Homo sapiens: one gene and its partners. The protein of the gene in region 2 purifies or fractionates together with the protein of the main gene of each other region. This does not show direct contact. Each region holds a gene or a part of one and is shown on either strand. Other genes may lie near its edges.

The links.
Region 1: the proteins of AKT2 (region 2) and ERO1A fractionate together in Homo sapiens (co-fractionation; one large-scale study listed by BioGRID). This does not show direct contact.
Region 3: the proteins of AKT2 (region 2) and AP1G1 purify together in Homo sapiens (affinity purification with mass spectrometry; one large-scale study listed by BioGRID and IntAct). This does not show direct contact.
Region 4: the proteins of AKT2 (region 2) and DSTN purify together in Homo sapiens (affinity purification with mass spectrometry; one study listed by BioGRID and IntAct). This does not show direct contact.
Region 5: the proteins of AKT2 (region 2) and EIF4EBP1 fractionate together in Homo sapiens (co-fractionation; one large-scale study listed by BioGRID). This does not show direct contact.
Region 6: the proteins of AKT2 (region 2) and LMAN2 purify together in Homo sapiens (affinity purification with mass spectrometry; one study listed by BioGRID and IntAct). This does not show direct contact.
Region 7: the proteins of AKT2 (region 2) and NIBAN2 fractionate together in Homo sapiens (co-fractionation; one large-scale study listed by BioGRID). This does not show direct contact.

Annotation. Positions count from the first base shown.
Region 1 is NC_000014.9:52,689,059-52,692,558, forward strand, and holds part of ERO1A (ERO1-like protein alpha isoform 2 precursor), read right to left. Parts: intron 1-3,500. UniProt on the Homo sapiens protein: Oxidoreductase involved in disulfide bond formation in the endoplasmic reticulum. Efficiently reoxidizes P4HB/PDI, the enzyme catalyzing protein disulfide formation, in order to allow P4HB to sustain additional rounds of disulfide formation.
Region 2 is NC_000019.10:40,243,846-40,247,345, reverse strand, and holds part of AKT2 (RAC-beta serine/threonine-protein kinase), read left to right. Parts: intron 1-3,500. UniProt on the Homo sapiens protein: Serine/threonine kinase closely related to AKT1 and AKT3. All 3 enzymes, AKT1, AKT2 and AKT3, are collectively known as AKT kinase.
Region 3 is NC_000016.10:71,798,835-71,802,334, forward strand, and holds part of AP1G1 (AP-1 complex subunit gamma-1), read right to left. Parts: intron 1-3,500. UniProt on the Homo sapiens protein: Subunit of clathrin-associated adaptor protein complex 1 that plays a role in protein sorting in the late-Golgi/trans-Golgi network (TGN) and/or endosomes.
Region 4 is NC_000020.11:17,601,075-17,604,574, forward strand, and holds part of DSTN (destrin), read left to right. Parts: intron 1-3,480; coding exon 3,481-3,500. UniProt on the Homo sapiens protein: Actin-depolymerizing protein. Severs actin filaments (F-actin) and binds to actin monomers (G-actin). Acts in a pH-independent manner.
Region 5 is NC_000008.11:38,037,034-38,040,533, reverse strand, and holds part of EIF4EBP1 (eukaryotic translation initiation factor 4E-binding protein 1), read right to left. Parts: intron 1-3,500. UniProt on the Homo sapiens protein: Repressor of translation initiation that regulates EIF4E activity by preventing its assembly into the eIF4F complex: hypophosphorylated form competes with EIF4G1/EIF4G3 and strongly binds to EIF4E, leading to repress translation.
Region 6 is NC_000005.10:177,334,669-177,338,168, forward strand, and holds part of LMAN2 (vesicular integral-membrane protein VIP36 precursor), read right to left. Parts: intron 3,118-3,500; coding exon 3,038-3,117; intron 2,857-3,037; coding exon 2,695-2,856; intron 2,583-2,694; coding exon 2,468-2,582; intron 1-2,467. UniProt on the Homo sapiens protein: Plays a role as an intracellular lectin in the early secretory pathway. Interacts with N-acetyl-D-galactosamine and high-mannose type glycans and may also bind to O-linked glycans.
Region 7 is NC_000009.12:127,562,574-127,566,073, forward strand, and holds part of NIBAN2 (protein Niban 2), read right to left. Parts: intron 1-3,500. UniProt on the Homo sapiens protein: May play a role in apoptosis suppression. May promote melanoma cell invasion in vitro.

The DNA of each region.
Region 1 (3,500 bases), on a different chromosome or scaffold from region 2:
GACTCTCCTGCCTCAGCCTCCCAAGTAGCTGGGATTACAGGTGCCTGCCACCATGCCCGGCTAATTTTGTATTTTAGCAGACACAGGGTTTCACCATGTTGGTCAGGCTGGTCTCAAACTCCTGACCTCAGGTGATCCACCCGCCTCAGCCTCCCAGAGTGCTGGGATTACAGGCATGAGCCACTGCGCCCGGCCCTCATATACATTTTTTATGAAATACCTTTTAAACATGCTCAAAGTGTGAATTAGGAAAGTGAAAGAAATAAAAGGTATCCAAATAAAAAATACGTAAAATTGTCTCTTTTTGCAGATGACATGATCTTATATATAGAAAATCCTAAAGACTCCACCAGAAAACCATTAGAATAAATTCAGCAAAATTACAAGATACAAAATCAACATACAAAAATCAATTGTGCTTCTATACACTAACAATGAACTATCCAAAAAAAAATTAAGAAAACAATTCTATTTAGAATAGAATGAAAAAGAATAAACTACTTAGGAATAAATTTAACAAGGAGAGGAACGATCAGTATGCTGAAAACTATAAAGCAGTGATTAAAAAAACTGAAGATTACACAAATAAATGGAAAGATATCCCATGTTCATAAATTGAGAGAATTAATATTGTTAAAAAGCCCATACCACCCAAAGTGTTCTGCAGATTCAATGCAATTTCTATCAAAACTCCAATGGCATTTTTCACAAAAATAGAAAAAAAAATTGTAAAATTTGGATGGAACAGCAAAAGACCCCAAGTAGCTACAGCAATTTTGCAAGAACAAACCTGGAAGCAGCCTACTTTGTAATTTCAAATTATATTACAAAGCTACAGTCATCACAACAGTGTTGTATCAGCATAGAAACACATACATAGACCAATGGAAAACAATAGAAAGCCCAGAAATAAACCCACACATGTCTGGCCAACTAATCTTTGACCAAGACCAAACAATGGGAAAGCACAGTCTTGTCAATAAATGGTGGTGGGAAAACTGGATATCCATGTGCAAAAAAATGAAATTGGATCTTTATCTTACAACACACACAAAAGTCAACTAAAAGCTGATTAAAGACTTAAATGTTAGCCCTGAAACACCAAGACTCCTAGAAAAAAACATAGGAGAAAAGCTCCATGACATTAGTCTTGGCAATGATTTTTTATGTGACACCAAGAAGACCAGCAATAAAAGCAAAAATAAGTAAGTGGGACTACATGCAACTAAAATGTTTCTATGTAACAAAGAAACAAGCAACAAAATGAAAAGGCAACCTACAGAATGGGAGAAAATATTTGCAGACCATCTGTCTGACAAGATGTTATTATCCAAAATATAAAAGGAACTCATACAACTCAACAACAAAAAAACAAATAACCCAATTAAAAAATGGGCAAGGGCCGGGCACAGTGGCTCATGTCTATAATCCCAGCACTTTGGGAGGCCAAGGAGGGCAGATCACCTGAGGTCAGGAGTTCAAAATCAGCCTGGCCAACAGGGCAAGGTGGCGGGTGCCTGTAGTCCCAGCTACTTGGGAGGCTGAGGCAGGAGAATCACTTGAACCCAGGAGGCAGAGTTTGCAGTGAGCCAAGATCACGCCACTGCACTCCAGCCTGAGTGACAAAGTGAGACTCTGTCTCAAAAGAAAAAAAAAGGATAAGGACCTTTTATATATCAAAACATTATGTGGTACACCTTAAATATATGCATTTCTTTTTTCTTCTGACACGCAGTTTTGCTCTTGTCATCCAGGCTGGAGTGTGATGGTGCGATCTCACCTCACCACAACCTCTGCCTCCCGGATTCAAGCAATTCTCCTGCCTCAGCCTCCTGAGTAGCTGGGATTACAGGCATGTGCCACCACGCCCAGCTAATTTTGTATTTTTAGTAGAGATGGGGTTTCTTCATGTTGGTCAGACTGGTCTCGAACCCCCAACCTCAGGTGATCCACGTGCCTCAGCCTCCCAAAGTGTTGGAATTACAGGCGTAAGCCACCACACCCAGCCAATATATGCAATTTTTATGTGTCAATAAAGGTGGAGAGAAATACATAAATAAATCAATGTGCTCAAAGTGTGCTTTATTTGGCAAAGAACTTCAGGTGTATTTAATTTTACTGTGTTTTATCACCATAAAAAAATAACATAAAAAGTACTCATCTGTTGACAGAAGTACACTGGGACAAGTCTGTCAATGGAAGCAGGGAAATACCAAAGATTCCACACCAGGTAGTAGGCACCATCCTAAGGACCTAGAACGCTACAGGTCATTTTGGCTTTAAAGACTTAGTCTTGCCGAAACTTTAAATTGTCAAATGACTGGCAACCATCAGGAAAATATTTCTTCCACACAGTTTATTCAGAAAAGCCTGGAATGCAGCACACACATAGAGTCAGTGGACACCTCTCCAGTGTAACCTGTTTCAAAGATCCCTCTGACTAAGTTATAATCCTGGGCTTATTTCCATCCACCACTCAACATATTAGCAAGTGTCTCTCCCACGGCCCAGCCACCAGGCTAACAATTAAAACCATTGTTTCAACTGACCTAACAAGACACTTGACAGGTTAAATCTACTAAATGCGCTCCAAGCTAAAAAAGATCCATTTTTGGAGTATTTATTTTGGACTCTGAGCTACTCTCCCCTTTCATTAGCCTGACAGAGATTTACTGTGCTCAAATAAGCTATCCTGAGTGTTACTAGCACTAGCCATATTAAGATTGATAAAACATCATGAGCAAGTAAGAGTTTACAAACATCGTGAGCCACCATGCCTGGCCTAGGTTGTATATACAATTCTTACATGAGGTTACATATACAGATTTACAAGTCTAAGGCAATTAATCATTCATTTTGAGCAACTAACACTTAAGCACTATTATCAAAGGAACTTACAACATACAGTGAAAATAATTTTAGCAGGATTTGATATCAACTAACAGGCATATGTAGCAACTGACCAAATTCAAAGACTCAGTTGGAGCTATCAACCAATCTGAAAGATCAGTTCCAGAAAACATGCAAATGGCTTGCTAAGCAGAATAATTTTTAAAATATACTCCTGTTGGCATAGTGCTTGCATCTTATAATTTCCCTAGGACTTGTTGAGCACCAATTATTCACCAGGCTCACTTCTTGGAAGTGTCACACCTTTAATTCATTTTTTGATCTCCCAAAAATTGTTCACAGTAGGTTTCAACATATGCTTGATGAATTTAATCTGATTACTTGTAGAGCTCTACACATTTTAATTCAGTGACTTTCTAAGGTCACTGCTCTAGCTCAAATCAGAGCGGACATTCTGTGAACTGAACCCTACTATAAGCCAGGCACCATGCAGCAGTGTGATGATGGATGGGGATGTGGTAACCCAAGGCAGATGTGGTAAGAGGGACAGGCAACAGGAAGAAAAGATAAAACTATTACCAAAACAATCAACGGGACTGTGCAGCTCACTGGATATTGTAAACAGAACCAGAGAAGATTTTAACTTGTAT
Region 2 (3,500 bases):
CTCTTGAGAATCAAGCGAGGTGGTGTCTGGAGCTAGCCACTCAGTGCTGTTATTTTTACAGTCGTGGTTTACCCAGGGGCTCTCCTCTGGGGGCTAGAAGATACTTGAGGCCCAGCTTCATGGGGAGCTCCCCTTTGCCCCAGACGCCATGTTGCAAACCCTTGAGAAGGATCCTGGACAGAGGCCCTTGCTTTTCATCTGGAATTCTGAGTGCTGCAACCTTGCAACTTTGGTCCAGTTAGAATTGGATCGGAAGCTAGTCAGGCAGCAGGCGAGCCCCAGTTACTCCCAGATAACCTCCTGCATTGCTGTGGTTTCTGGAGCTTTCTGTAGGGTGGGCAGTGGGAGCCAGGGTAGGTGGGGTAGGCCCGCCCCTGCGAGTGTCTTCGGCACCCTCCCTTCCACCCCGCCCTGCGCGCGGTGCTCTGCGCCGACAGCCCGCCAACCTCTTAGCCCCAGGCCCAGGCCCTGGTGGAGGGGAGAGCTGGGAGGGCTGAGCTGGTCCAGGTGGCAGAGCCACTCTTGGAGCCCCAGCTGGGGTGGGTCCAGGGCCTGTGCTCCTGATTCCCATCTGGAGTAGCCTCCCAGAGCTGCTTCTGGGCTGGTGGTGTGGCAGTGCCATCCTTCATGTATTTGGGTTCTCTCCACAGAGGGACCATCTGTGTTCTCTCCACCCCTGTCTTTGAAAACAAAGATGATACCACGCTGTACATCTTAGTCTGCAATCTGCCATCTTCACGTGACAGTCTCTCAAGATCTTTATATATGAGAGACATATTTTCCTTTTTAATATCTTCACTGTATCTCTTAGGAGATCTGTGATTTTTTTTTTCCCAATCCGCCATCATTTACTCAGAGTCAGCATTAAAAAAATTTAAAATTTGTGAGAGGACAACTATGTCTGATAAAGCATGTCATGGAAGGCTGGGCACAGCAGCTCACACCTGTAATCCCAGCACTTGGGGAGACCGAGGCAGGCAGATCATGAGGTCAAGAGATCGAGACCATCCTGGCCAACATGGTGAAACCCTGTCTCTACTAAAAATACAAAAATTATGGTGGCGGGTGCCTGTAGTTCCAGCTACTCTGGAGGCTGAGGCAGGAGAATCGCTTAAACCTGGGAGCCACTGCACTCCAGCCTGGCAGCAAAGCGAGACTCTGTCTCCAAAAACAAAAAGAAACAAAAAAGAAAAAAGCCTGTCATGGAATGGGCTCCTGCCCTGTCCCCGGCCCCTGCTTTTTTTTTTTTTTTTTTTTGAAAAACAGGAATATTAGTGTAGGGTTTGGGAATTAGGCTGTAATTTGTTCCTAAGGGGGCATGGGTTAAAGCAAGTTGAGAAATACTGGCTTGAGATGTTGGGCCAGGGAGTGCAGAAGCCAACACCGCTCTGCCCGGGTGTGCACCAGGGCTCAGTGCGTGCTCTGCCCGGGTCTGCACTGGGCCCTGCTGCGCCCTGGCCCTGGGGCCACTTGGACTTTGGCTGCCTCACTCTTTCATTACCCAAGTATCTACTGAGTATCCACCATGAGTTCTGGGGGCAGAACTGTGTTCAAAGCAGGTGGAAATCTCTGCCTCCGTGGGGTGGACATAGATGGGTTATGGGGACTCCAGTCTCTGAGTGGGTGGGGAGGGCAGCGTGCCTTTTGTAATTCCAGCTACCAAGCCTGGAGCAACTGCTGTTTTTCTGGAATCTGTTTTTTCAATCTGTGCCCCAGTTCCTCCTTCATAATGGGTGGGAGTAGGGATAGTTGATGATAGCAAGTGCTTCCCATTTGTTATTAGAGGCTGTTCCTTTCCTTCGACTCCCAGTTCCCCTCCCTTGGAGGCAGGCAGGGCTCCAGGATCATGACTTCTCTTCTGGAGATGTTTGTGCCTATGTGAGCATGTGTCTGCAGAAGTTCATTATTTTCTAACTTAGGAGCACAGAACTGTATACTGTTCTTCACCTTCCTTAATTTTGAAATTTTTTATAAAGGCGTGGTCTTCTTATGTTGTCTAGGCTGGTCTGGAATTCCTGGGCTCAAGCAGTCCTCCAGCCTCTGCCTCCTAAATTGCAGGGATTACATGAGTGAGCTACCTTGCCCATCCCTGCACCTTCCTTTTTCTCTTAAGAAGTCTCAGATCATCCCAAGTCAGCATACAGACCTGCCTCAATCTTTCCCCCAGCTGCAGAATGTCTCATTGCACAGATGCCTCACAGGCATTCTACCTCACGACAGCCTGTGTATTAAACACTGCTGTGATATTTCATCAAATCGAAGGCGCTGTCATTGGGGAGGCACCCTGTTTCATATAGTGCCAAGAAAAAGGCGTGCCCAGTTAAATCAAGACAGACCCCAACTGTGAGATTAATCTGCATTCCAGCAGTGTCAAAATGTGGAAGAGGGTGCGTTGTGGGATGGATGGAAATAGAAGTAGTTTCGCGTGGTACACCAGGAAACGAGACTGGGGAGGAATACAGCCCAGCAGGGTGTCCCGGCTTGGATTTTGAAGCCCAGTCCCAGCCACACTTGTTCCCTGCCTGACCTTGGGTAGGGGCCCCAGTGTCTCAGGAACACAGGAGCAGTGACACTTGCCCTGGGGCGGGGGCCATCCTGGAAGATGCTGTGAAGGGCTGGCTGCACTCCCTGTGGCTTATTTAAATCACTGGGATTTGCGTGATTACACTCTCTGAATTTTCTCATTCTTAGTGAACATTTTATTTTTCTTGTTGGTCATATGAGTATTTTCTAGATACAAGCAAAATACACGGGGGGTTCAAAATGCGTTGGGTTGAAACACCTAATTGCAGTGTGGTCAAAAATGGGGGATGTGGACAATTTGGTGTAATTCAGCCTAATATATTTTTCATTTTGGTCTCTGGTCATTTTCACTTATTAGACAGAACAGTTTGTAAGTATCCAAAGAAAATTATTTTGTTTTTTTTTTAGCTGATTGCAGTGGTATGATCATGGCTCACTGCAGCCTCCACCTCCTGGGCTCAAGCAGTTCTCCCACCTTAGCCCCCTGAGTAGCTGAGACCACAGGCATGTGCCCCCACACCTGGCTAATTTTTTATCTTTGGTCTCTACAAAGTGGGTATCCATGTTGCCTAGGCTGGTCTCAAACTTCCGGATGCAAGCCATCGTCCCGTCTCAGTCTCCCAAAGTGCCAGGATTGCAGGTGTGAGCCACCGAGCCCAGCTCAAAGACAGTTCTTTCTCAGCAAGTTCTAAACCATGAGTGACAGAACTAGTTTATTGTTCTTTATTTTATTATTATTATTATTATTATTATTATTATTATTATTTTATTATTATTTTGGGATGGAGTCTCGCACTGTTGTCCAGGCTGGAGTGCAGTGGCGCGATCTCGGCTCACTGCAACCTCCGCCTCCCGGGTTCAAATGATCCTCTTGCCTCAGCCTCCCGAGTAGCTGGGATTACAGGCGCCCGTCACCACGCCCGGCTAATTTTTTGTATTTTTAGTAGAGACTGGGTTTTACTATGTTGGCCAGGCTG
Region 3 (3,500 bases), on a different chromosome or scaffold from region 2:
CCGAGATCACACCACTGCACTCTAGCCTGGGCGACAAGGGTGAGACTCTGTCTCCCAGGAAAAAAAAAAAGGATAAATGAAAGACAAGAAAAATACACGTGCCATATAACAAAGAATTAACATTCCATAAGCGCTCCTACAGGAGGAAAAAAAAAGAGAAAGAAAAATGAAGCAAGGACATGAGCAGACAATTCTCGGTAAAGGAAATCCAATGGCTATTATACGTATCAAATAAGGCTAGCCCCAGTAACAGGGAAGTTAAAATTAAGACAAACTGCATGACCCATTTATCATCTAGCAGACTAGTAAAAATTAAACTATGTATTTATACCCAGTGGTTTCATGATATGGAGAAGTTACTGCTATTTGGGATGAAAATTATGATAACCTATTTAGAGAGTAATCTAGCAATAATAATATTTAAAATATATTTCTCTGTTAACCCAGAATTCCCCCTTTGGAGACTACAGAAATAAAAGCATCAGCATATAAGGCGGCATGTACAAGGATATTTATTGTAGCACTTTGTTAAGTGGCAAAAATCTAGAAATGATCTAAATGTCCACAGGAAAATAATAAATTATGGTACATCCACGCTATAAGACACAATAGGACTGTTTAAAGGAACAAGATAGAATTATATTTACTGTGGGCTGAGTGCAGTGGCTCACACCTGTAATCTCAGCACTTTGGGAGGCCACAGGAGGCAGACTGCTCAAGTCCAGGAGTTTGAGACCAGCCTGAGCAATACAGCTATATCTCATCTCTTATTAAAAAACTAATAGGCTGGGAGCGGTGGCTCACACCTGTAATCCCAGCACTTTGGGAGGCCAAGGTAGGCGGATCATGAAGTCAGGAGATCAAGACCATCCTGGCTAACATGGTGAAACCCAATTCTACTAAAAATACAGAAAATTAGCGGGGTGTGGTGACAGGTGCCTGCAGTCCCAGCTACTCGGGAGGCTGATGCAGGAGAATGGCGTGAACCCAGGAAGCAGAGCATGCAGTGAGCCGAGACTGCGCCACTGCACTCCAGCCTTCGTGACAGAGCGAGGTTCCATCTTAAAAATAATAATAATAATAATAATAATAAAAAATTATATTGGCTGGGTGCGGTGGCTCACGCCTGTAACCCCAGCACTTTGGGAGGCCGATGCAGGCAGATTGCTCAAGCCCAGGAGTTCGAGATCAGCCTGAGCAACATAGCAAAATGTCATCTTTTAAAAAAATAATAATAAAGAATTATATTGCCGGGCACGGTGGCTCACGCCTGTAATCCCAGCACTTTGGGAGGCCGAGGCAGGTGGATCACGAGGTCAGGAGATCAAGACCATCCTGGTTAACATGGTGAAACTCTGTCTCTACTAAAAAAAAAAATACAAAAAAATTAGCCGGGTGTGGTGGTGGGCGCCTGTAGTCCCAGCTACTCGGGAGGCTGAGGCAGGAGAATGGCGTGAACCCAGGAGGTGGAGCTTGCAGTGAGCCGAGATCGCACCACTGCACTCTAGCCTGGGTGATAGAGCAAGACTCCCCATCTCAAAAAAAAAAAAAAAAAGAATTATATTGGCCAGGCACGGTGGCTCACACCTGTAATCCTAGCACTTTGGGAGGCCAAGGTGGGAGGATCATGTGAGGTCGGGAGTTCAAAACCAGCCTGACCAACATGGAGAAACCCCCCCGTCTCGGGTCGGGTGCGGGGGCTCACGCCTTTAATCCTAGCACTTTGGGAGGCCAAGGTGGGCAGATCACGAGGTCAGGAGATGGAGACCATCCTGGCTAACATGGTGAAACCCCATCTCTACTAAAAATACAGAACATTAGCCAGGCGTGGTGGTGGGTGCCTGTAGTCCCAGCTACTCGGGAGGCTGACGCAGGAGAATGGCGTGAACCTGGGAGGCAGAACTTGCAGTGAGCTGGGATCGCGCCACTGCACTCCAGCCTGGGCAACACAGCGAGACTCCGTCTCAAAAAAAAAAAAGAAAGAAACCCCATCTCTACTAAAAATACAAACTTAGCGGGGCATGGTGGCACATGTCTGTAATCCCAACTACTCGGGAGGCTGAGGCAGGAGAATCACTTGAACCTGGGAGGCGGAGGTTGCGGTGAGCTGAGATCACGCCATTGCACTCCAGCCTGGGCAGCAAAAGCAAAACTCCGTCTCAAAAAAACAAAACAAAAATGAATTATATTGGCTGGGCGCGGTGGCTCATGCCTGTAATCCCAGCACTTTGGGAGGCCAAGGCAGGCAGATCACTTAAGGTCAGGAGTTTGATACCAGCCAGGCCAACATGGCGAAACCTCATCTCTACTAAAAATACAAAAATTATCTGGGTGTGGTGGCAGGTGCCTATAATCCCAGCTACTCTGAAGTCTGAGGCAGGAGAATCACTGAACCCAGGAGGCGGAGATTCCCACCACCTGGGTGACAGGGTAAGACTCCATCTCAAAAAAAACAAACAAACAAAAAAAAAGAATTATATTTACTGACCATGACATGTTAAAAAAAAAAAAAAGCGTGTCATAGAGTAATATAAATAATATGATCTCTCTTTAGTAAAAACAAAAAATTCCTATGTACACTTACGTGAGTATGTACAGTACTTAACTAAGCATTGAGAGAAATATTGAAGCGTAAATTCATTCATAATCTGTTAAAATTTGGGGTTAAAATTAAGACTGTCATAGAACAGATGATGTAACACTACAGGGTAAACACTATAGGGTAAACATCCCTAATCCAAAATCTGAAATTCTCCAAAACCTGACATTTTTTGATTGTTGACATGATGCTTGAAGAAATGCTCTTCAAGGCCGGGCGCGGTGGGTCACGCCTGTTATCCCAGCAGGGGAGGCTGAGGCGGGCAGATCACAAGGTCAGGAGATCACGACCATCCTGGCTAACATGGTGAAAGCCCGTCTCTACTGAAAATACAAAAAATTAGCCAGGCGTGGTGGCGGGCGCCTGCAGTCCCAGCTACTCTGGAGACTGAGGCAGGAGAATGGCATGAACCCGGGAGGCGGAGCTTGCAGTGAGCCGAGATTGCGCCACTGCACTCCAGCCTGGGCGACAGGGCGAGACTCCGTAACCAAAAAAAAAAAAAAAAAAGAAAAGAAAAAAATGCTCTGCAAGTGTTTCAGATTTTGGATTTTAGGATTAGGGATGTACAAGTGGTGTAACGCAAATATTCCAAAATCTGAAAAAATCCAAAATATGAAACATTTCTGGTCTCAAGCATTTCAGATAAGAGATACTCAATGTGTATTTGGTTGAAAGAGCTAACTTATATAAATGATTATACAGTTGTACAACTCAAAGTAAAAGGAGTTCCATTAGTGTTTTTACAGCTCAAGTTAGTGAACCTATTTAACTAAACCTCAAAACTAAACAACTGAAAAAGTGTTCAGTCTTAAAAGGAAGCAAAAGAAGCGTTTTTTACTTACCTCTTTTTTTTGAGACAGTCTATCTCTGTCACCCAGGCTGGAGTGCAGTGGCACAGTCT
Region 4 (3,500 bases), on a different chromosome or scaffold from region 2:
TAAAACTCATTTTGTTAGCACTCGGGAAGACCAGTTCCAGCACCAAAGTAATTTTTATTCAAACTATTTGCAGTTGTTGTCATTTAATTTTTATTTACAGGTTTCATAATGTTACCAGGGCTGATGTTTATGGGACCCAAACTAAATTTTGACTATTTTCTATCTACTTGTTATGTGACTCTCCGTTTTTGTTTTTTTTTTCAATGGGGAAAGGACAGGAGGCATCCTCTGAATGTACTGCTTTTATAGGCTAAAATTTCCTACTACTTTTAACTTTCTTACTTATAAGCCAAAACCCTACTTTTCCAACGAGCCATGCCAGGAACCAGCCTTCTATCTACTCTTTTAAATTACACCCCTTCCTTGTGCCTCTGTGGTCTACTACTTTTGAAGAAATTGGTACCATTCCCTCCCTGCTATAATTTGCTCTACAGTTGCACTGTTTAGTAGTGTAGTCACTAGCCACATGTGGCTATTTAAATTATTTAAAATTAAAAATTCAGTTTGTTAGCTGAATGAATTACCACATTTCAAATGCTCAGTAGCCACATCTGACTAGTGGCCACCTTATTGAGTAGCACAGATACAGAACATTTCCATCATTGCAGAAAACTCTGTTGGGCAGTGTTACTCTTAGATAGTGAAACAGGGCTATAAAGTTATTTTTATGGCCTTTTTCTTGAAATGTTGTTTAGTTATTCTGGTCTTTTCAGGCAAGTCGGTATTTGAGATGAAGCTTTAGAAAAAAGTTACACCTGGATCCCTCATTTATTGAATATTATACTGCATTCCTTGATATGGCCAGGAGTAGAATTCTTTAGTTTCTAAGGGGAGGGAGAAATGGTAACACTACCTGATTTTTTTCTTTTTTTTTTTTTTAGAGGGGCAAGGATTCTCTTGATACTTTGGCCTGAGTCAGGGCAAGGCAGGGAGGGACTTAGCTTTTAGCTATGTGCCATCAATAGCTTGGAGTGTAAAAGGGATATGGGAGTAGGAGATGCAGAGGATTGTGGTTTAAAAAGGAAGATAACTCGAGGTCACACCTCACTTGTATTTCAGTAAGCTTTTACTGCACTTGATTAAACCAAGTTGCTGTGAGGAATGCAAATATGAGGTCAGGGTGCACGTATTCAGGCAGCTTAGAGTCCATTGAAGCTGGTACATAAGACTGAAAATTAACAAGGATTTGAATGAAGGTGCATTTACTGAACTTTATTTCTACTACACGCCAGCTATTGTGCGAGGGCCTGGGAAAACAGCTGTGAATAAAACAGGTTAAGTCCTTCCTCTTCTGGCATTCACAGCTGAGTGGCAGACAGGCCAGCTAATGGTTTAGGCTTTTAAATTGGTCGGTATTTCCTTAATTTGCAGGTATTTTTTCTGCTTTTTATGTATTTTGTAATTATGAAAAGTATGCATTCTTATTTTTTTAAATGTGGAAAATAATAGAAGAAAAGGAAATTTAGTGTTAGTGCAGTGGTTTATTTTGCACTGTTACACTGTTACTTAAGAAAAGGTAGAACCTTATTAAAGGCATTTTCTATAACAAGCTCCGCCCATGGCCCAGGGAGCAGCTCTTAAAGTAGTTTAACAATTTGGTTAGAATAAAAGCAGAACAGCTGATGCTTTTTTATGTTTCTGACCTATTTTCATAACAAAAGTACCCACTCTGCTGGGCGCAGTGACTCATGCCTGTAATCTCAGCACTTTGGGAGGTGGAGGTGGGCAGATCACGAGGTCAAGAGATCGAGACCATCCTGGCCAACCAACATGGTGCAACCCCATCTCTACTAAAATTAACTGGGCATAGTGGCACACGCCTGCAGTTCCAGCTACTCGGGAGGCTGAGGCAGGAGAATCGCTTGAATCTGGGAGGCAGAGGTTGCAGTGAGCTGAGATCACGCCACTGCACTCCAGCCTGGGTGACAGAGCGAGACTCCGCCTCAAAAAAATAAAAAATAAAAAGTACCCACCCTGTAGCTCAAACATCTGCCAGTCCTGAGGTTGTGATGGCTCTGCCTCCTTCCCTGGACCTTAGGATTGGGAGGAATAAGCCTCTGAGAGACAGACTGCCCTTTTTCCCAAGAATGGAATCTCTGCTCACTAGGGTAAGGGGTACACTAGGTGAGGTCCACATGCCAGTGCTCATGGCTGTTGAATGTCCTGGAAATATGGCAGCTAAATGGAATTATTAAATGCTCAGAAGTATTTAGCTATACCGTAATATCTTAATGACCTCCAGTAGGCTCTTGGAAACTACAGCTTTAAGCAAAACAACATACACCAGGTCCTCAAATAACGTCATTTCTTTCAATGTAGTTTTGTTATAACATTGAGAAAAAAAAATACTGGTTTTGGTATATGTCATTTTGTTTTAAGTCACAGGCTCCAAGAACTGATTGACAATGTTAAGTGTGGACTTACTGTACTGCATCTTCTCTGTGATATTTTAGCAGTGTGGCATGGAGGTGGGCCTATGGGTTGGCGTACAGAGGAAAGAAGGACCTCCGTGCAAGCAGTCTGAGTGGGAGGGTTTCTGTCCGTTACTAATCATCCTTATTCTTCAGTGTTGCTGCTGAAGGTGCTGTGACACATATGCTGTGCTTCTAACACGCTTCCCTTCAAGAGGGAGAACGTGCTCCAATGTTATAAATATAAAAAGATAGTAATAATATTGACAGTTAAGACATAATTATTGGTGAGTTGCCATTTAGAAATCTTTAGAATCATGAGATTATACAAGTGGATTTAATATTTTTTTCCAGAGAATTATTGAAACGTGGATGCCCAGATCTGTAATTAAACATGTATTGTTATGTTAGACTAAGAAAACAAGTACCTGTGGGATCAAAACCTGCTATTGGAATAGATGAAGGGACTGGGGAAGTCTAAGAAAAGGACTTTTATTTGTAATTTATTCTTTTTTGTCCTTTTTTTTAAGTTTTTGATTTATTCTTTTTTAGAAAACAATCTGAAGCAAAGGTGCCAAAATATTAGCATTTAATTCTGGGTCACACGTACTTACGGATTATTCTCTGTACTTTTATGTATTTTAAAACTTTTTTCCAACTAGAAAAACTGTCAAAAACCTTGTGTAAATATTAGCCTGAATCCAATCCCTTATTAATAATAATGAAAAATATTCTGAAGAAAAAGAATTGGGTTATACAGTGAAGTACTCAGTGTTGGTTCTTTCATTATGGCGACTGTAATCTGATTTTTAATTGGTGATTGTCTTTTGCCACCAGTGGTTCTCTTCTTTTTTCCCACCCTGGTCAACCTGAGTGATTCTGCATATGCCTATCTGTAGCATTTCCTCTCTGAGCTGCTGGGGAGGTAGAAAAAATGTGCAGTTAAGAAAAAATATCTCAGGAGAGTCTGAGGATTCTCAGCAAATGTTTACACAAGCAAATGTTTAACAAGTTGCAAGTTATACTTTCTCTAAACCACTTTTTTCATTTTTGGCATCTTTCTATCTAGGGCACCAGAACTAGCACCTC
Region 5 (3,500 bases), on a different chromosome or scaffold from region 2:
AACCCAAAAGATGGAGAACAATAACAAATCGCTGCTGTTTAGTTACTGTTTGGGGATGGCTTGTTATATAGCAATAGCTAACTGATACAACCATTTTCACCAAGTGTCCCTGCACACCTAAGAAGCCCTGATCCTCTGGGCCTAGTATCTGAGCTCTCTTAATGAGCTTTCATGGGCATAACCATCAGATTACATGGAGCCCTTTGCTGTGCATACCCAAATGTCAGTGAGCAGCAGTTACTTACTCTTGCCTTGTCAGCAATGCTGGATGCAAACAGGTAAATAAACAGCATCAGTCACAGTGTCTGAGACCCCGGCCCCAATACTGGCTTGTTCAGTGTAAGAAAAAGTTGCCAGATGCAGTGGCTCACATCTGTAATCCCAATGCTTTGGGAGGTTGAGGCAGGAGGATTGCCTGAGGCCAGGAGTTCAAGACCAGCCTGGGCAACATAGACCTCATCTCTACAAAAAATAAAAATTAGCCAGGTGTGGTAGCATGTGCCTGTGGTCCCAGCTACTCGGGAAGCTGAGGCAGGAAGATTGCTTGAGCCCAGGAGCTCAAAGTTACAGTGAGTGGTGATCGCGCCACTGTACTTCAGCCCATAGACACTCCAGCCTGGGCCACAGAGGTGAGGCCCTATCTGTTAAAAGTTTTTTGTTTTTGCTTTTTAAAAAAAAGAAAAAAAGTCACATCCACTCCCTGTTCGGTAATATTGGGACAAGAAATACCAGCAATACTGTTTAATACAAATGTTCCTTGACTTAAAATGAAGTATGTCCCAATAAATCCACCATACATAGAAAATATCTTAAGTCAAAAATGCATTTAGGGCCAGGTGCAGTGGCTCACGCCTGTAATTCCAGCACTTTGGGAGGCTGAGGCGGGCAGATCACTTGAGGTCAGGAGTTTGAGACCAGCCTGGCCAACATGGTGAAACCCCATCTCTACTAAAAATACAAATTAGCTGGGTGTGGTGGCACACGCCTATAATCCCAGCTACTCAAGAGGCTGAGGCAGGAGAATGGCTTGAACCTGGGAGGCAGAGGCTGTAGTGAGCAGAGATTGCACCACTGCACTCCAGCCTGGGCGATAGAGCAACACTCCAACTCAAAAAAAAAAAAAAAAAAAAAGTATTTAGTACACCTAACCTACTGAACATTATAGCTTAGCCTTCCCTACCTTAAATGTGCTCAGAACACTTACATTAGCCTACAGTTGGACAAAACCACCTGGCAACACAGCACACTATAGACTCTATAGTGGGCTGTCCAATCTTCTGGCTTCCCTGGGCCACACTGGAAGAAGAATTGTCTTGGACTACACATAAAATACACTAACACTGGCTGGGTGTGGTGGCTCACGCCTGTAATCCCAACACTTTGGGAGGACGAGGTGGGCGGATCACCTGAGCTTGGGAGTTCGAGACCAGCCTGACCAATATAGAGAAACACCATTTCTACTAAAAATACAAAATTAGCTGGGTGTGGTTGCGCGTGCCTGTAATCCCAGCTACTCAGGAGGCTGAGGCAGGAGAATCACTTGAACCTGGGAGGCAGAGGTTGCAGTGAGCCGAGATTGTGCCATTGCACTCCAGCTGAGCTTAAAAAAAAAAAAAAAAGAAAGAAATTTCATAATGTTTTAAGGAAGTTTACGGACTTGTATTGGGCCTCATTCAAAGCTGTCCAGAGTGCATGTGGCCTGAGGGTCTCGGGTTGGACAAGCTTGTGACTGGCCATTTGTCCTCATGTTTGTGGGGCTAAATGGGAGCTGCAGCTCACTGTCCCTGCTGAGCATCTCGAGAGCATGTACCTCGTATCGCTGGCCCAGAAACAGATCAAAATTCACAATTCAATGTACAATTTCTAGGCTGGGCGTGGTGGCGCACACCTGTAATCCCAGCTACTTGAGAGACTGAGGTGGGAGGATTGCTTGAGCCTGAGAGGCGGAGGTTGCAGTGAGCCGATATCATGCCAATGCACTCTAATGTAGGTAATAGAACAAGACTCTGCCTTTTTTTTTTTTTTTGAGATGGAGTCTTGCTCTGTCTCCCAGGCTGGAGTGCAGTGGCGTGATCTCGGCTCACTGCAACCTCTGTCTCCCGGGTTCAAGCGATTCTTCTGCCTCAGCCTCCTGAGTAGCTGGGAGTACAGGTGTGTGCCACCACACCTGGCTAATTTTTTGTACTTTTAGTAGAGACGGGGTTTCACCATGTTAGCCAGGATGGTCTCTATCTCTTGACCTCGTGATCCACCCACCTCAGCCTCCCAAAGTGCTGGGATTACAGGCATGAGCCACCGTGTCCGGCCAAGAATCTGTCTTAAAACAATTTTTAAAAGTACAATTCCTACTGAACACATATCACTTTCATACCATCGTAAAGTCAAAAATTGTAGTCACACCATCATAATCGGGGACTATCTGTATGAGGATAAGTAGGAGGGTTCAGAGAAGGTTATTCTCTGGCTGGTCCAGTGGCTCACGCCTGTAATCCCAGTGTTTTGGGAGGCTGAGGTGGTGGATCTCTTGAGCCCAGGAGTTCCAGACCAGCCTGGGCAACATGACAAAACTCTGTCACTACTAAAAATTTAAAGATTAGCCAGGCGTGGTGGTGTGTGCCTGTAGTCCCAGCTACTGGAGAGGCTGAGGCAAAAGGATCACCTGAGCTCAGGGGGTTGAGACTGCAGTGAGGCATGATCGTGCCACTGTACTCCAACCTGCAACAGAGTAAGACTTTGTCTCAAAAAACAAACAAACAAAAAACAGACAACATCATCAAAACAGAGAAAGTTAGTTTCTGCCCCTGGGACATTCTGAGATAAACACTTATACCCTGCAACTGAAAGGACAGAAAAGGAAATTTAAACGTCATCATTAAGCCAGCGGAGACTCAGGCCTGACAGTAAGAAAACTAGGTTATCCTGACCAGGCATGGTAGCTCACGCCTGTAATCCCAGCATTTTGGGAGGTCGAGGCGGGTGGATCACAAGGTCAGGAGATTGAGACCATCCTGGCCAACATGGTAAACCCCGTCTCTACTAAAAATACAAAAATTAGCTGGGTGTGGTGGTGCGTGCCTGTAATCCCAGCTACTCAGGAGGCGAGGCAGGAGAGTCACTTGAACCAGGGAGGTGGAGGTTGCAGTGAGCTGAGATCATGCCACTGCACTCCAGCCTGGGCGACAGAGCAAGACTCAGTCTCAAAAATAAATAAATAAATAAAATAAGAAAACTAGGTTATCCTGAGGGGAACGCTTTCATTCCAGCATTCTTTTCAACTCTTCACCTTCCAGACACTAGACCTGGCATTAGGTCATGTGGATACAAAGATGAGTAAGACTGCTCAGAAAAAATTTCCTGGCTAACCTAGGGAACAAACACGTAAACAAAAACGTGTGATTCATTCGCTATGAATCATAATGGAGAGAGACCCCAGGCATGGGTCTAAGTCAGACCAGAAAGAAACAGGTTTTTCATGGGTTTGTTGGCACAGGCAAGAATCT
Region 6 (3,500 bases), on a different chromosome or scaffold from region 2:
CTCTTTGAGGCTCATGTTCCGCACATGTAGAGGAGTGATGATCTCCATCTGTGTGGTTGCCATGGCAAGTACATGAGAAGGGTCTACACCACACAGAAGATGGCCTGCCTGCAGAATAAGTGCTCAAAAACAGACCCGGGAAAGACCAACAGTCGCTGTGTGACTGGCTGAGAAGGCTGAGGTCCCAAGGGCAGGAGCCACCAGACATTCTTGCCACAGAGACCCACATACAGGCTGCAGGGGAACAACTCGGCAACCAGCTAAGGGCCTGAGCCTAACGCAGGTCAGCAGCTGTGCCTGAGGAGACTGGGGAAAGGCTCTGTCCAATGGCATGCACAGGGAAGAGCCCTGGCTTGACGCTGATGGATCACCCAATTGTAGAGATGAGGAGGCTGAGGCTCAAAGCCGACACGTGGGTCCTGGTCAGCCTGGGACTGGAATCTGAGGAAAGGCCTTGTTGAAGGGAGCAGGAATCTCTGGAGCCAAGGGGGGACCTAATGAGCAAGAGCTCGGCCAGGCACACAGTGTGAGAGCCGAGCATGCACAGCCCTTGGAGACGGCGAGCGGCCCTGCAGGACAAGGACCGGCCCTGGAGTCAGGCCCCAGTTCCCATCTGGGCTCTGCTGCTTCCTGCTCGTATCTTAGGAAAAATCCTTTCAGTTTTCAAACTCCCAATGGTTGAGTAAAAAGGGAACGAGATGGCCATCTGCCTAAAAATACATCAGGTGACATCACCCGTAAGGTGCCTGGCACTGATGACCCCTGACCAGTGGTCAGACACGGCTCCCCTCATGGTGCCTCCTCCACTCTGTGCTGGGCTCTCCCAACAGCTGTGAGAGCTGCCACCGGCCACAGCACTGGTGCTGCTCTGCTCCTATCAAGAACCCTCCAAAGACAAGGGCTGAAACAGTGTGATGAAGTTCCAGGCAACCCGGGGCAGGAGGGAAACCAGCCAGGCGCGAGCTGGAAATGATGAAAGCTGGTTGGCAGGAAGGGTGCTTACCAGACCTCTCTCCTCTGCTGGGTATGTGACTGAAAAACCCCCAAACAATGGATGTTCTGGGGTCTGAGCGGACCCAAGCACTTCCATGCTGAGAGAGGAGGCTCCTGGGCAGTGGGCAGACTACAGGCCCTGGAATGGGTCATCCTGAGGATAAACCGCCCATGTCAGGTCCCCCGTGTCACGTGCCAGTTCTGGTCAGGAGCTGGCCCTGGGCCTGGCACCTGCTCAGGGCCCCAAAGAGAAACCGAGAACCACAGCCAAGGGCCACCACGGCCTGGTGACCAGTGAGGCCTGAGCAGGTTAGAGGCACCCCAGTGCTCGCTGAGCACCTGCCCTGGGCCAAACAGCCATTTATAGAGCTTACAATTGAGCAGGAGGGCCAGAGACAATAAAATTAATTACTCGGTAGACTCAAAGATGGTAAATATTATGAAGAAAAATAAAGCCAGCAAAGATGCTGGGGAGTGGGCTGGGGACACAGGAGGGGGCACGACATTCCACGAGGGCATCAGGGAAGGCCGCACTGAGGAGGTAACATCTGAGCAAGGCCCTAGGAGACAAGGGTGAAACAGCCGGGGCAGGAGGGCACAGGCGCATCCAGGCAGCAGCTGGAAGCCACAGTAGGCAGGGGGAGCAGTGAGCAGGGAGCCAGAGGTGGCAGGGCTGGCACAGAGGCCCTGGCGCCCCCTGCAGAGCTCTGCGCAGAGCAGCAGGAGGCCTCACACGGGCTGAAGGCGATTACTGAAGGCGATTACACGGCTGCTGTGCTCACGAGAGACTGTTGGGGGCTGGTGAAGGAGGGGACCACTTGGGAGACTCCTGTGAGAGACACTGGTGGCCTGAAGCCGCCAGGTAGTCAGGGAGGGGAGGGAAGTGGTGAGACGTGCTGTGAAAATAAAGCCACAGGGACTGTTGATGGACCAGAGGTGCCATGTGAGAGAAAGAAGGGTCCGGAAAGACAGCAAGCAAATAGAGGGGCACAGGTGCCACTGACATCCCGATGGGCAAGATGTGGCCTCAGCTGTGGGCACAAGGGCTGAGCAGGTCCAGAGCGGTCTGGGCTGGAGATAAATCTGGGAATCTACATTGCCCAAATCTAACTGACCCGCTGCCTCCTGTTGATGGGGAAGGTTGCCAAGGGACCGTTCAAGGCCTGAGGCCCGGACAGGCCATTTACAGAAGAAAGGAGGAGGAGGAACACAGCCAGGTGAGCTCAGAAACCACAGGAACTGAGGCCCGGACAGGCCATTTACAGAAGAAAGGAGGAGGAGGAACACAGCCAGGTGAGCCCAGAAACCACAGGAACTGAGGCCCGGACAGGCCATTTACAGAAGAAAGGAGGAGGAGGAACACAGCCAGGTGAGCTCAGAAACCACATGAAGGCAGGCAATCAACTGCATGGAAAGCTCCCAGTCCCTCAGGGTGAGCTGGGCTGGGAACCAACGCCTGGCCCGGCCCACTCACCAGACAGGTCGCCGGTGCCGGCGGAGGCCCCGAAGTAGTAGCCGGTGGGCAGGCGCACTCCCGTGATGTCAATGCAGTTCTTCCACTCGTTCTTGTCCTCCAGGTCGGTCATCACCTGCAGGGCCCAGCACGCTAAGCACCTCGCAGGACAGCAGCCTGCCCTCCTGAGCCTCTGTGGGACCAGCACAGGGCCACCAGCTGCCACCCCCACCGCCTAGCCTGCTCACCGTCAGACGGCCCCGGGAGTAGCGCACAGCCAGGAAGGTGTCGTGATCGCGGTTGCGGAAGTCAGCCGTGCAGCCCGCCAGCTCGGTCCAGCGCCCATCCTTGCTGTGGTCGTAGGACAGGGAGCCATTGTTCACCATCACCGAGATGTACGGGAACACGCGCTGGGACCAAGACATCGGTTACTCCACAAGCAGCCCAGCCTGTGGGGCGAGCAGGGGCACCCACCACCCCAATCCCTGGAGGCTCCTCTTGTGCTGGGACCATGGAAGTCCCAGGGCCCCCTCCTCTAGCCGACTGCCCAGTCCTTCCTTTCCTGCTCAGCAGGATAGAGCAGGGGCCTACCTCAGTGGTCTCATCATTGGGGTAGGTGTCCAGGAAGATGGCTAAGCCGTGGAAGTTATCTTTGCTTCCAAACACAGGCCCTAGAATTATAAGCAGATGCTCTCAGAATGGGAGAAACAGGAGCCGTCCCATGGGTACCTAAAAGGCAAGCAATGCCAACATGGGTGGGGGCAAGAGAGCCCAACCCACTGGCCATTCACCGAGAGAGAAGGGATCGTGAAAGGAGAAAGCTGAGGCTTTCTCCTCAGAAGTGGGGGGTCTAGGCATATGACACAGAGGACTCAAGTTTGAAGGCTGAACTGTGAGGGGACTGAGGCAGATGTCAGGTGTCAAGGGGGTACCTGGCCTACAAAAAACAGTGAGCCACAGGACAGCCCTACCCAGGAGGCTCTACCCTCTATACTAGGGGCAGCAAACATTCTGTGAAGAGCCACCAAGGAAACACCTCAGGGTCTGTGGGCCA
Region 7 (3,500 bases), on a different chromosome or scaffold from region 2:
AGTACACAGGCAGCCCCTTCAAGCCCACTAGCCCCGAACGATGCTCAGAGATGGCAGGAAGGAGCCTCCCTCTAAATGCCCAGGTTGGCGGAAGCAGAGCACGGGAAGAGTTGGGCTGGGAGATGAATCGGTCTTCGACAGGGAAGTTGACTGGAGCCAGAAAAGAAACACACACAGTGGCTCTGTTTGCCCCTACAAACCAACATGTGAGAAACAACCTCATGTCCAGCATTAGGGAAAAAGCTGGGAAAGTGACCCTCTGTCCTCAAATGGAATAAAATGCAGCCTTTGGGGATGCTTCCAGGGAGGTTTTAATGACCTGGGAGAGATGTTTACTATAGATCATGTAGTGAAAGAAGCAAGACACAAACTTGAGTCATGGTCCCGGTAAAGTGTAATGATCGACACAGATGGGAAGTACTCCCAGAGGATGAAGTGGTTATCGCAGGACGGCGGGTGAGTGGTTCCTAGTCCTGTTTTTCCGCTTCACTCCTTGGACAGCAGGGAGGGCAGCCATGGCCCCGCGTGGGTTTAGAAAGGTCCCTTTGGCAGCGTGTGTGGGAAGGACTAGAGGCTCCGAGGAGGCTGGAGCAGCTCTGAGTAGGCGAGGCCGGCACTCAGGCCCCAGCAGTGGAAAAGGAACAGAGTCAGGGGGACTAGAGGAGGCTGGATGGAGGGGAAGGCAGGGTCAAAGCCAACAAAAGCATGTTATATAAGACCCAACAGAGAGACAGCATCATCCCCAGACACTTCGCCCCCAGGGGCTGACCCGGACCTTGGCTAAGGGCAGCGGCCCAGGCCCAGGCACTGCTTCCGGCCAGCCTGGTCTCTCTGCAAAGTCCAGGGGAGCAAAGAGGAAGCCACACAGCAGGGTGAGGGGTGGCAGAAGGTGGAACCCCTCCATCCCTTCACTCTTGGCATCTACAGCCACTTCCCAAATGTTGAGAGGTAGATTTTTTTTTTTTTTGAGACAGAGTCTCACTCTGTCACCCAGGCTGGAGTGCAATGGTGCGATCTCGTCTCACTGCAACCTCCACCTCCCGGGTTCAAGCGATTCTTGTGCCGCAGCCTCCCAAGTAGCTGGGACTACAGGCACGCACCACCAGGCCCGGCTAATTTTTTAGTAGAGACGTGGTTTCATCATGTTTGCCAGGCTGGTCTCAAACTCTTGACCTCAGGTGATCTGCCTGCCTGTCTCCCAAAGCGCTGGAATTACAAGCGTGAGTCACCGCGCCCAGCAGAGAGGTAAGTTTTTAAAATCACTTTGGAAAGAAGCATTATTTGTTTTGCTCAATAAATAATTAAGACACCCTTCTTCTCATATCTGGTTGTCAAAAGGATGAAAATGCTCAATGCTAAGGTCCATCTTAGCAGGAGAGTGTCAAACGCCTGCTGCCTTCTTAAAGGCTATGTGTCCATCTATCAAAAGGTGACCCAGGCAGGGCATGGTGGCTCACGCCTATAATCTCAGCAATTTGGCAGGCTGAGGCAGATGTATCACCTGAGGTCAAGAGTTCGAGACCAACTTGACCAATATGGTAAAACCCCATCTCTACTAAAGATACAAAAATTAGCCAGGTGTGGTGGTGGGCACCTGTAGTCCCAGCTACTCAGGAGGCTGAGACAGGAGAATTGCTTGAACCCAGGAGGCGGAGGTTGCAATGAGCCGAGATCATGCCACTGAACTCTAGCCTGGGCAACAAAATGAGACTCTGTATCAAAAAAAAAAAAAAAAGGTGACCCAGGAGTTCCATTTCAGGGCCTCTCTGATACTGGAATATTACAGAGGGTTTGTACCAGCAGGTTCAAGCAGCACTGTGAATACTAGCAAAATAGTGGAAACAACCCAAATGCCCATTCACAGAGGGCTGGGTAGACAAACCATCCATGCACAGAAACGAACTCACCAAGAAAAGAATGAGGTAGTCTTGTGTGTTCTGACACAGAAAGATGTCCACCAATTTACCAAGTGAAAAAAATCAAACCACAGAAGCATAGAGTAATATCTCTTTTTATAGGTTGGGCGTGGTGGCTCATGCCTGTAATCCCAGAACTTTGGGAGGTCGAGGTGGGTGGATCACCTGAGGTCAGGAGTTCAAGACCAGCCTGGCCAACATGGTGAAACCCTGTCTCTACTAAAAATACCAAAATTAGCCGGGCATGGTGGTGCACGCCTGTAATCCCAGCTACTCAGGAGGCTGAGGCAGGAGAATTGCTTGAACCTGGGAGGCGGAGGTTGTAGTGAGCTGAGATCTTGCCACTGCACTCCAGCCTGAGTGAGACGCCATCTCAAAAAAAAAAAAAAAATCTGTTTTTATAAACCAAGCTATTATGAGCATGTACAGAGAGAGGTAGGTTTGGAAATGGTGACACACCACACTTAAGTGACTTCTTCTGGGAAGTGGGATTTAACGGAGAAAGATGGAGGGTGTTTTCATGTTTTATTTTACCCTCCTAAATTGTTTGTACATGTGTTACTTTTGCTCAGGCAATCCTTCCAACTCAGCCTCCCAATTAGCTGGAACCACAGGCGCATACGACAATGCCCGGCTAATTTTTTGTATTTTTACTAGAGACGGGGCTTTGCCATGTTGCCCACGCTGGTCTTGAACTCCCCAGCTCAAGCAATCCGCCCTCCTCAGCCTCCCAAAGTGCTGAGATTACAGGCGTGAGCCACCACGCCTGGCCTGTGCACACATTACTTTTGCAATTAGACAAAATGTTCAGTGGTTGCCTAGATTTAGGAGGGACTAGGAGGAAACAGGAGCGACTACTAAGGAGTAGAGGATTTCTTTCCGGGCTGATGAAAATGCTCCAACATTGATGGTGGCAATGGTTGCGCAATTCTGTGAATATACTAAAAACCGCTGAAGTGTACACTTTAGGTGGCTGAATTGTATGGTAGGTGAATTACGCCTCAATAAAGCTATTATTTTTGGCTGGGCGTGGTGGCTCACGCCTATAATCTTGGCACTTTGGGAGGCTGAGGAGGGTGGATCACCTGAGGTCAGGAGTTCGAGACCAGCCTGACCAATATGGTGAAACCCCCGTCTCTACTAGAAATACCAAAATCAGCCAAGCATGGTGGTGTGTACCTGTAACAGAGGGCTGAAGCAGGAGAATCACTTGAACCCAGGAGGTGGAGGTTGCAGTGGGCTGAGATTGTGCCACTGGACTCCAGCCTGGGACAGAGAGTGAGACTCTGTCTCAAAAAAAAAAAAAAAAAAAAAGATGTTAGTTCATGGGCGGGAAGTTCACACCTGTAATCCTAGCACTTTGGGAGGCCAAGGCTCCCAAAGGAGGATTGGTTGAGCCCAGGAGTTCAAGACCAACCTGGGCAACATAGGGAGACCCTGTCTCTCTCTCTCTCTCTCACACACACACACACACACACACACACACACACAAATTAGCACGGCATGGTGGCGCATGCCTGTAGTCCCAGCTACTTGGGAGGCTGAGGTGGGAGGATCACTTGAGCCCAGGAGGTCGAGGCTGCA